Regions from separate parts of the Homo sapiens genome. Here region 2 is linked to region 1. The links come from fine-mapping of genetic effects on gene expression. A gene starts in region 1. The other region holds a variant in brackets. All regions are shown on one strand. Distances are from middle to middle. Region 1 holds the start of EBPL (EBP like). Region 2 overlaps KPNA3 (karyopherin subunit alpha 3).

Region 1 (5,381 bases):
ATCAGTTTTTTCATTAAGTTTCTATTTTGCTCTGAAGGGGAGGTGGGCCGAGTGGTCCCTAAAGGATGATAAGTTAGTTACAGGACAGGATCCAGAGCATAGGTGGCTAGATTGACCATACTCAGTCGCCAGTTATTTAACTGAGCAGCTAATATATGCCAAACTCTGTAATAGGTGCCAGGGATACAGCAATAAAAAAGCTAGCCACAACCCCTGGCCTTGAAGACTTACATTATAGTGGCAGGAGATTAGCAATAAGTGTGTAAACAAGGATCATTCTATCTGGTGTTAACTGCTATAAAAAATGGTATAGGAAGTGACTAAGGGAAAAATTTCTTGTGTTCAGTGCCAGCATTTTTTTTAATAACTGTAAAATACACATAAAATTTGCCATCTTAACCATTTTTAAGTGTGCAGCTCAGTAAAGTATGTTCACGTTGTTGTGCAACCAATCTCCAGAACATCATCTTGCAAATCAAACTATCCGAATAAATAACACTCCACTTTTCCCCGCGCCCCCCCCCCACTCCCGCCCCGCCCCACCCCTGGTAACCATCATTCTATTTTGTTTCTGCAAATTGATTATTTTAGATATTTCCTGTAAGTGGAATCATAAGTATGTTTTTGTGACTGGCTTATTTCACCGACCTCATAGGGTTGTTGTGATGTTAAATAATGTAGGTTTGTTCCCGGACCAAACTGGGGGTTGGGCAGCCCAATAATGAGGTGCAGATGAACTGGGGAAGAAGAGTTTTTATTTCTGCAACCGGTTACAGGGAGAAGGTCTGGAAATTATTGCCAGACCAACTCATAATTACAAAGTTTTTCCAGAGCGTATATACCTTCTAAGCTATATGTCTACGTGTAAGAGTGCATTCATCTAAAGACGTAAGTGATTAACAACTTCTAATCCTGAAGACCTTCCTCTGGAGCCTCAGTAAATTTACTTAATCTAAATAGGTCTGGGTGCTGGGATGATTACCCTTATTTTGTCTCTTGCTAAATCATGGAGGCTTGTGGAATTCCTCCAGACTCCCAATAAACTTGTTTTTGGAGGCCTGGGGAGTTTCTTCAGACCCCCAATAAAACTTGTTTAATCCTAAACGGGTCCTGTTAAAAATTCCTTAGTTATCTTGTCATGCTTCAAGGCCCAAGAAAGGCCTAGGCAAAACTCTTGGTGGGCTTTTGTTACATTCCAGACTTTGGTATATGGGCACTGACTCTTTCAGCTTTTAATTTTTTTTTTGTTTTTTGAGACGGAGTCTCGCTCTGTTGCCCAGGCTGGAGTGCAGTGGCGCGATCTCGGCTCACTGCAAGCTCCGCCTCCCGGGTTCACGCCATTCTCCTGCCTCAGCCTCCGGAGTAGCTGGGACTACAGGCGCCCGTCACCACGCCCGGCTAATTTTTTGTATTTTTAGTAGAGACGTGGTTTCGCCGTGTTAGCCAGGATGGTCTCGATTTCCTGACCTCGTGATCCGCCCGCCTTGGCAAAAAGTGCTGGGATTACAGGCGTGAGCCACCGCGCCCGGCCTCAGCTTTTAATATTTAATTTAACCACTCAGTGCTGAAGCAGTTGTGATGGAGGCCTGCGATAGTGAAACCTGGCCTGCCACAGGTTAAACGCATCTATCGCCAAGCCAATAGGACTTACCGCTCCTCTCACCCACCCTTCTACTTTTCTGGATTTTTAAGAAATGGAAAGATTGTCAGAGTAGGCCATAAAGGCTTTAAGCCGGCTGGTGGCTGAAAACTCCCTTGGCCCCCAGCCTCCCTGGTAAGGCTTGCTGCAGCCTAATTAAAACCTTTTGCCCCTAAAATTCTGCCCCGGTCTACTGGCAAAATTTCCACTACCTAGGCTTCACTTTGTGGCTTAAAGTTTGAGCCTTGTTAAAAGCGAAACAACATCAAAAGGTGTGGCCCTATTACCAATCCTTTGGGCTCGGTTTGGGAACAGGTTTGGTCGAGGCGGTTGCGCAAGTTGGTGAGCACGTTCCTTCTACGGAACCTCCATGGGCGGCACCTGGCAAAACCACCGGACTCAGCAGGCTGGCCAGGGTGCGAGGCGGGCACGGAATCCTCGCTCTGGCCCCGACCCGGCCGGGGAGCCCCGTCCCTCCCCGGACCGCCTTGGCCAATCAGCTCCGCTCCTCCTTGGCCATCCGGCTCCGCCCCTTCCCGGCCAGCCCCGCCCCGTCGTTTCTCTCCCTGCTTTCCTCTGCCGCATGGTCCTGGGCCGTTGGCGTCGGAAGCCTGAAGCATGGGCGCTGAGTGGGAGCTGGGGGCCGAGGCTGGCGGTTCGCTGCTGCTGTGCGCCGCGCTGCTGGCGGCGGGCTGCGCCCTGGGCCTGCGCCTGGGCCGCGGGCAGGGGGCGGCGGACCGCGGGGCGCTCATCTGGCTCTGCTACGACGCGCTGGTGCACTTCGCGCTGGTAAGTGCCATCGCCTAGACCCTGCACTCCCCATCCCAGAGAGTGGGAGCGGGGGCGGCAAGGCGGGGTGAGGGGGTCCTGCGGCTTTTTGCAGCGAGCTGGCCGCCCCTCCCCCTGCTGCAGGAAGTCTGTTAGCTGAGAGGCGCCTGGAGGCCGCGGCGGCCGGAGTTCTGATTCCCAGGTCTGTGAACAGAGCGCAGCTTACCTTGTGCTGCCGATTCCTCCACCAAACTTTAAAAAAATTCTGTACGTGCTATGTTAGTTTAGAAGATACCTCAGCTTCCTCGGCTTTGTAACCTGCACGTAACTGTTGAACTGGACATAATTGAGAGTAGAATTGAGGTCATTTTTAAATGCCCCAGAGGGGGCAAGGAGAGATGCTTGCTCCGGAGGCAGCAAGGCTATTGTCGCAAAACCCGAAGCCTTTGCCAAGACAAACGAAACACCCGTGTCTAATGTGTGCCAGGCGCATTACTGAGTTTAAAATTTCAGATCTTTACAGCATCCATAAATTAGTTATTATTGTTCCCCATTTTACAGAGGTGAAGGTAGGCGCTGCAAAATTAGGTGACTTTCCAGTGCCACACAGCTGGCATGATTCTGAGGCAGTCTAGTCTGGCTCCCAAGTTTGCACTCTGTGTATCAGTCGAGGTCTTAGGAAATATGTGTCCTTAGAGATTCAACCCATTTTATAAAATAGCCAGGAAGGTTGTGTTTAAGGCATTTATATTGAAATGCCCCGCCCCCCACCACACACGCGCACGCACACACACACACACACTTTTAAGTTTTTTTTAAACTATGCCCAAGTATCAGTTTGTTTTTTTTTTTTTTTGTAAAGTTGACCTTGTTTAACTCTAGACACACCTGTGGCTAATGTGAAGCCAAAGTCAGTAGTATTGAGAAAGCAAGCCGAGTTTTGGGTAATCATCGAGTTCTGTAAATGTTTACGGGTTGGCTTTGTGCCCATGACTGATGTTGCTGGAATTCTTTTTATTCTGATAATCAACATGTAGAGATAAGGGACAGTGAATGTTTCTCTCAACTCCTTTATTTATAGAATTCTTTTTTTTTTTTTTTGTCTTTTTTTTTGTTGTTGTTCTTGAGACAGAGTCTAACACTGTTGCCCAGGCTGGAGTGTAGTGGCACTATCTCGGCTCACTGCAACCTCCGCCCCTTGGGTTAAAGCTATTCTCCTGCCTCAGCCTCCCGAGTAGCTGGGATTACGGGCGCCCGTCACCACGCCCAGCTAATTTTTGTGTTTTTAGTAGAGATGAGGTTTCACTATGTTGGCCAGACTGGTCTCAAACCCCTAACATCAGATGATCTGCCCACCTTGGCCTCCCAAAGTGCTGGGATGACAGGCGTGAGCCACCGCCACCGCCACCAGCCGAGAATTGATTTTTAAGCTATCACTTGAACACAAGGTTTCCCACAGAACAAGGGAGATAAAGCAGATTGCTAGGCCCGGTTAGAAAAAATGTATAACAAAATGTATAACATAACAAAAATGTTGCTAGGCCCAGTGAGAGAAAACTGTGTAACATATTGGCTGGGTATAACTGTATATAGCATATCAGAATGTATATATATAAAAATGTATAACATATCGGACACAGTGGCTCATGCCTGTAATCCCAGCATTTTGGGAGGCTGAGGCGGGTGGATCACGAGGTCAGGAGTTCAAGACCAGCCTGGCCAACATGGTGAAACCCCGTCTGTACTAAATATACAAAAATTAGCCAGGTGTGGTGACGGTGCCCATAATCTCAGCTACCCGGGTGGCTGAGGCAGGAGAATTGCTTGAACCTGGAAGGTGGAGGTTGTAGTGAGCCATGATCAAGCCACTGCACTCCAGCCTGGGCAACAGAGCAAGACTCTATCTTGGGAAAAAAAAGAAAAATGTTTAACATACCTTAGACAAACAAAAAGCTGTAAAAATACTTAAACTATATGCGTGTGTTCACCACTTGGTTTAAGACTGTTTACTTTTCAAGCTCAGGTTGTTACAGGTAACACGACACACACCTCCTTTTGTGCCATTACCTACCCCAGCTGCAAAGTAGTCCACTGTGTGAATACACCATACCTTAGTTCTCCAAGTCTAAGACCCACATTTTTTCACATATTAGAAGAATCAACTACATCATGTAACTACTGTAGGCCATTTGATTGATATTTTAATGTCTCTAAATTGGGATGTATCTTATATTTGATGAATACGATCACTTAACCAGCCCATATTAGTGGACACATTTTTCTGTCATTACAAACAATGCATCTACCAACGTCTTTGTACATGTGTCTCAGAGATCAGTGGGGAGAGCACTTGAATTAAGCAGTTGAGGCTGCAAGAAAATACATGCCCATGTTGTCTTTGCTTGGGAGTTTATTGCAAGAATACCCAGAAGTGTGGGACAAGCTAAGACTAAGATGTAGAGCTTAGGGGAGAACCAAAATTAAAACTCACTTGTTCACTAGAAGATGAGTTGCCTCTCCTTAACCCGACACTTCTTTTTTTTTTTTTTTTTTTTTGAGACGGAGTCTCGCTCTATTACCCAGACTGGAGTGCAGTGGCGCAATCTCGGCTCGCTGCAAGCTCCGCCTCTCGGGTTCACGCCATTCTCCTGCCTCAGCCTCCTGAGTAGCTGGGACTACAGGCACCCGCCACCACGCCCGGCTAATTTTTTGTATTTTTTGTAGAGACGGGGTTTCACCATATTAGCCAGGATGGTCTCGATCTCCTGACCTCGTGATCTACCTGCCTCGGCCTTCCAAAGTGCTGGGATTACAGGCGTGAGCCACTGCGCCTGGCCACCCCCTGACACTTCTTAAAGAGAGGAGCTCTGTAGGTTTTTTGGCTGCCATCAAATTGAAAGCTATCCTGTTGGACAGTTTCAAGCCAAGCATTCCCAGGGGCAGTTCATTTCCCAGATGTCCAACCAGAGTGCAG
Region 2 (5,381 bases), 28 kb before region 1:
GTCTTGCTCTGTCGCCCAGGCTGGAGTGCAGTGGCGCGATCTTGGCTCACGGCAAGCTCCACTTCCTGGGTTCACGCCATTCTCCTGCCTCAGCCTCCTGAGTAGCTGGGACTACAGGCACCCGCCACCACGCCTGGCTAATTTTTTTGTATTTTTAGTACAGACGGGGTTTCACCATGTTAGCCAGGATGGTCTCGACCTCCTGACCTCGTGATCTGCCCGCCTCGGCCTCCCAAAGTGCTGGGATGACAGGCCTGAGCCACCACGCCCAGCCACAGGTGTAAGATTTTAAAAGTAACGTACCATATTTAATTACTCCTATGAAATAAAAGTTGAGTGTCTTACTGTACCTGAAAGAATGTCAGTTCATCCTAATGCCTATTTTTTTGATTATCTGCATAAAAAGAAAATATAAAAATTCAGAGAGAAAAATACAAAAGGAAAACAATCTCAAAGTTTTATTACTGTATTGCATTGTTGGTTTAAAGCTATAAAAGGGGGTTGCTACAGGCAAAACTAGTATACTTACATGCAAATGTTCTTGAATGAGTTTGCTTTAAGTCCAATTGATTTTTTTTCTTCTTCTTCTTCTTTTGAGACAGTCTTGTTCTATTGCCCAGGCTGGAGTGCAGTGGCATGATCTCAGCTCACTGCAGCCTCTGCCTCCTGGGTTCAAGCGAGTCTCGTGCCTCAGCCTCCTGAGTAGCTGGGATTACAGGCCAGCGCCACCACACCCGGCTAGTTTTTGTATTTTTAGTAGAGATGGGGTTTCACTGTGTAGGCCAGGCTGGTCTCAAACTCCTGACCTGAAGTGATCTGCTCACCTCAGTATCCCAAAGTGCTGGGATTACAGGTGTGAGCCACTGCCCCCACGGCCTAACTCCAATTTATTACTGACAAAATTGGAGTTCTTAAAAGTGTGACATATTTTTTGTTAAATCTACTAATTAAAACAAAGTAAAAACTTTTTTATTTACATTTGATATGTAAATAGATCCTTGTGCTTTGCATTTTAAAAAAAAATCCTACATAACCTTTATTCACTGTTGACTGTGTTATCTCTTTTTTTTTTTTTTTTTTTTGAGACAGTCTCGCTCTGTTTCCCAGGCTGGAGTGCAGTGGCACAATCTTTGCCCACTGCAGCCTCCACATCCGGGGTTCAAGCGATTCTCATGTCTCAGGCATGTGCCACCATGCCAGGCTAATTTTTGTATTTTTAGTAGAAATGGGTTTTCACCATGTTGGCCAGCTGGTCTTGAACTCCTGGCATCAAGCAGTCCACCCACCTCACCCTCCCAAAGTGGTGGGATTACAAGCATGAGCCACCACACTTGGCCAACTGTGTATCTTTATAATGGACATCTTTCTCTAGTACCTGCTACTTTTTGTTGCTATGCAAAGGTATTTTGTGTGATTTCCTACAACCCCCTGCTCCCTTTCTCCCATATTTTAAAAAGAGATCTCTGGGGCCTGAATTTAACAAGCAAAGCTTTGTACTTTGTACTGGTTCGAATTTTCTTGACTAAAGGTGAAGTTGAAAACTTTAATTTGACTTAAGTAGCTTATTAAGTAAAATCGTATTTTTACGTTAAGCAGGTAAGTGAGACAATTACGGCAGTTTTAAGTGTAGCTTTTCTTAAATAGCTGTAACTGTATATTTGCATCTCCATTTTTTCCACTTGACATTTTATGCCATAAAGAAGGTTATTAAAAACAAATGTTTTTATTTTAAGGTACATTAACTTCTGCCAGATTTATTTGGATATTTTAACTTGTTAATTGAACATATTTCAGTTTAACATTTGAGATATGTTTTTGGTTTTTTTAGATTGAATTTATCAGGTTTTCATTTTCCTAAAAGATATTCAGACAAATTTAACATTGTCTTTCTCGCCCTACAAACCATATTTACCGCTTTTTATGTCAAAGTTGTTCATTTTTACAGACATATTAATTAACTAATGTTAAGTATTGTTTATTTTCTTTCCTCAGATTTTGCCAGCTTTATGTGTCCTCATATACCATACAGATATAAACGTAAGTTAAGAAGCAGCTTAAATGTGGGATTTTGCTCTTGATGGGACAGAAAGGGTTTTTATGTAAGTGTCAGCATACATTTTATCAACTTGTCAAGTTTCTACAACGTATTTACAGTTTTCAGAAATAGGATTAAGCTTAAATTAGGTTTATAGCTTAAATCTGTAAGCAGTAACAGCCAGACAGCAAAAATGCTCACTTTTGAGAAATTACTGCATATGTAGTTTATTTCTGTCATTATTAAGTAGTGTTTTTAAACCTTAATATTTGTAAAGCGGTAAAACCTCATGAAACACCTTACTTTTTAAAAAAAATCTCACTGGTTCTTACAACAGATAGGCTAGATATTATTCCCCCCATTTTATAGAATAAGAAGAAACGGACTCTCAGAGA[GAGAT/T]TAAATGACTTATCTAAAGTGGAAGAGCTAGTAAGGGTCAGAGTCAATATTCAAATTAAAGTCTTCTCATAACAGGTCTTGGGTACTTGTCACAAAACCATGCTGCCTTTTTATGCTACAGTCTTTTTAGATATAGTATAGAAGAATATATAGTTTTAAATGCAAGGCATTTTTAGGTGATTTTTTTTCATTATATTCAGATTTAGTGAAGCATTTACTGTCAACGTTCTGGCAAGTTTGATACTATCTAGGCAATCTGAAAATTCTCCTAAATGCAGTAAGGTAAATTGTTACTTTTCCATGGAGTAAAACAGTGGATAAATTTCGGTGACTAGTGTTGATCCAGTTTCTTTTATTCTAACTAACATCTCTTTCTGATTTGTTGTATATTTGTGTTTTTGTAATCTTTATCTACATACACATAACATGTACATACATATGTGTATATGTGTGGCAGAATTGTGAATTGTGTGTAATTTATCATTGGGACAAAGAAATACATCTTTGCTTACCTTTCTCACAAGGCAATATAATTTGTATATAAAAATTGTATCACATTACTCTAGCTCATTTGCAGATTTTAAGCTCTCAGGATGGAATCTTTTAAAGGTAGCTAAAGTCACTTCGTGTTTGACACAGCCTAAAATGTCATTAAAATGAAGTAAAACATGTTTATATGCCGTCTTATTTCCAAAATGGATATAAAGTGACTTAACAAAAGACATATAAGATAATATCTGTAAAGGAAAAAGTAAAATTTATACAGAAGTTTAGTTGTTGCTGTTGAAAGGTAAGTTTAGTTGTAAGCTTTCTGACAGCAAAGATTAAAAGGGGAATAAGCAAAATATCTGCTGTTTGCCTCAGGACTTTCCCCCAGAACATTATAGAATTAATTATAGGCAAATAAAAGCTTTCACCATCTGTTGGTTGTGTTTATGTGAAAGCTGGGGTATTAAAGTGGCAGTGTACTGTAGTTACAGGTATATTAGTCAAGTTTAGCAAACACTCACAAATTATTCCACTTAAAGCCAGAATTGTGCCATGAATTGTACACTCAGTGATAAGACATAAAGAGACCATGCCTTCTAAGACCTTAACATTAAAGATGTAAAAAGAGTTAAAAGGAAAGAACTTATGTCAAGAAATTGCTGTGCTGGATCTCTCTGTAGACTCCTTTTATCTTACCAGTATCCTTGTAAGATAAGTTTTATTCTTCTATTTTACAAATACAGAGATTGAAACTCGGTAAAGTTAAATAATCTTTCTAAGGTCATGCAATGAATGAGAGCCATACCTGAGAACTGAAGCCAGGTCCAAGGCCTGTGCTTTTTCATACCATGATCACATATTCAGTATAATCCATAGGCTCACAGTGAAAAAAAAAATCATACCATAAGCACATAAACATAAAACATGGTATGAAAGCCAACAAGAAAAAAGGTAAGATAGAGCAGTGACCAAAGTGCTTTATTATGGAAGCACAGATAATTTTGCTAGCGAAGCAGAAAGCTTCGTTGACAAAGTAACATTTGAGACGAGCATTATAAGGAGACAGAAGTGGGGACAGAGTCAAAGATTATAGTGTTCATAGTTACCATTTATTGAGTTTAAAATCTGCCAGGCACTGTTTTAAGCACTTTTGCTATGTTAACCCATTTAATTCTTACAAAATTCTTGTGAGATTGGTACTCTCATTATCTCCATCATCTACAAACGTTGTAAAAGAAGCAGAGGTACTTAAGTAATTTGTCTCATGTCATATAACTAGGATGAATAGGATTTTCACAGGTTGAGAGAAAGTCATTTCAAGAACACGGGGGAAGATATTAAGAACTCAAGAATACATGGAGGTTTAAGAGAATACATGTAGATAATAACCTAATACGTTCGCTAAGGAGTTAATTTGCAGAGTCTTTGATTCTTTTTTTTTTTTTTTTCTTTTTTTTCCGAGATGGAGTCTTGCTCTGTCACCCAGGCTGGAGTGCAGTGGCGCGATCTAGGCTCACTGCAACCTCCGCCTCCCGAGTTGAAGGAATTCTCCTGCCTCAGCCTCTCCAGTAGCTGGGATTACAGTGCATGCCACCACTCCCTGCTAATTTTTTATATGAGTTTTTGATTCTATATTAAAGAGTTTTAAGTTTATCTTGTAATGACTGCAGAGTCATTGTAGATTTTTTAAATCGAGAAATGATATTTGTTTTATACAGATAAAATTATCTGTAACAGACAAATAACACAAATATGGAAGGTTTGAAGTAGGGAAAGTTTGACTGTAGGTAGATGTATTTTGCTATCATAATAGGTTTAGGGAAGTTGATGAAGGCATGGACTATTACTAAATTGCAATAATAGGAATCGTTAAGGGAGAAAAAACTTTGAGTGTTAGGAAATAAAGTGAGTAGAACTTGGAACTTGTTGTTCCTCAGTGGCGGTATTTTCCAAAAGCAAAAGACAATACAGATTTTGGATTCGTCAGTATTTAAGGGATTGATGAAAACCTGGGCATTGAATGAGATCACCTGGAGGAGGCTGTATTTCGGAAGGAGGGCTAAAAATGTAACTTAGGAATTCCTGGCGTTTCAGGAATGGCAGCAAGGGAAGAAGAACCAACAAAGGAGTTTTTAAAAGTAGTATGATGATGGCTGGGCACGGTGGCTCATATTTGTAATCCTAGCACTTTGGAAGGCTGAGGACAGTGGATCACTTGAGGTCAGGAGTTGAGACCAGCCTGGCCAACATAGCAAAACCCCGTCTCTACTAAAAATACAAAAATTAGCTGGGCATCATGATGCGTGCCTGTAATCCCAGCTACTTGGGAGGCTGGGGCAGGAGAATCGCTTGAGTCGGGGAGGTGGAGGTTGCAATGAACCGAGATCACGCCACTGCACTCCCACGTGGGCAACAGAGCGAGATGCTGTGTTAAAAAAAAATAATTAAATAAAATTAA

Evidence for each region. PIP is the estimated chance that this variant, and not a neighbour inherited with it, causes the effect.
Region 2: its variant is fine-mapped to the expression of EBPL in whole blood (INTERVAL, PIP 0.90).

What each region holds. Positions count from the first base shown.
Region 1 is chr13:49,688,301-49,693,681 of GRCh38, reverse strand. EBPL (EBP like) reads left to right here and starts at 2,196. Exons shown (of 4, transcript NM_032565.5): 1 at 2,196-2,428. The coding sequence starts at 2,258. RefSeq lists silencers at 2,071-2,270, 2,301-2,440 and an enhancer at 1,904-2,901.
Region 2 is chr13:49,716,431-49,721,811 of GRCh38, reverse strand. KPNA3 (karyopherin subunit alpha 3) reads left to right here. Exons shown (of 17, transcript NM_002267.4): 10 at 1,993-2,037. Among named protein-coding and RNA genes, the nearest start is that of EBPL, 28 kb to the right of the region's middle. The variant GAGAT/T (reference allele first, on the strand shown) is at 2,431.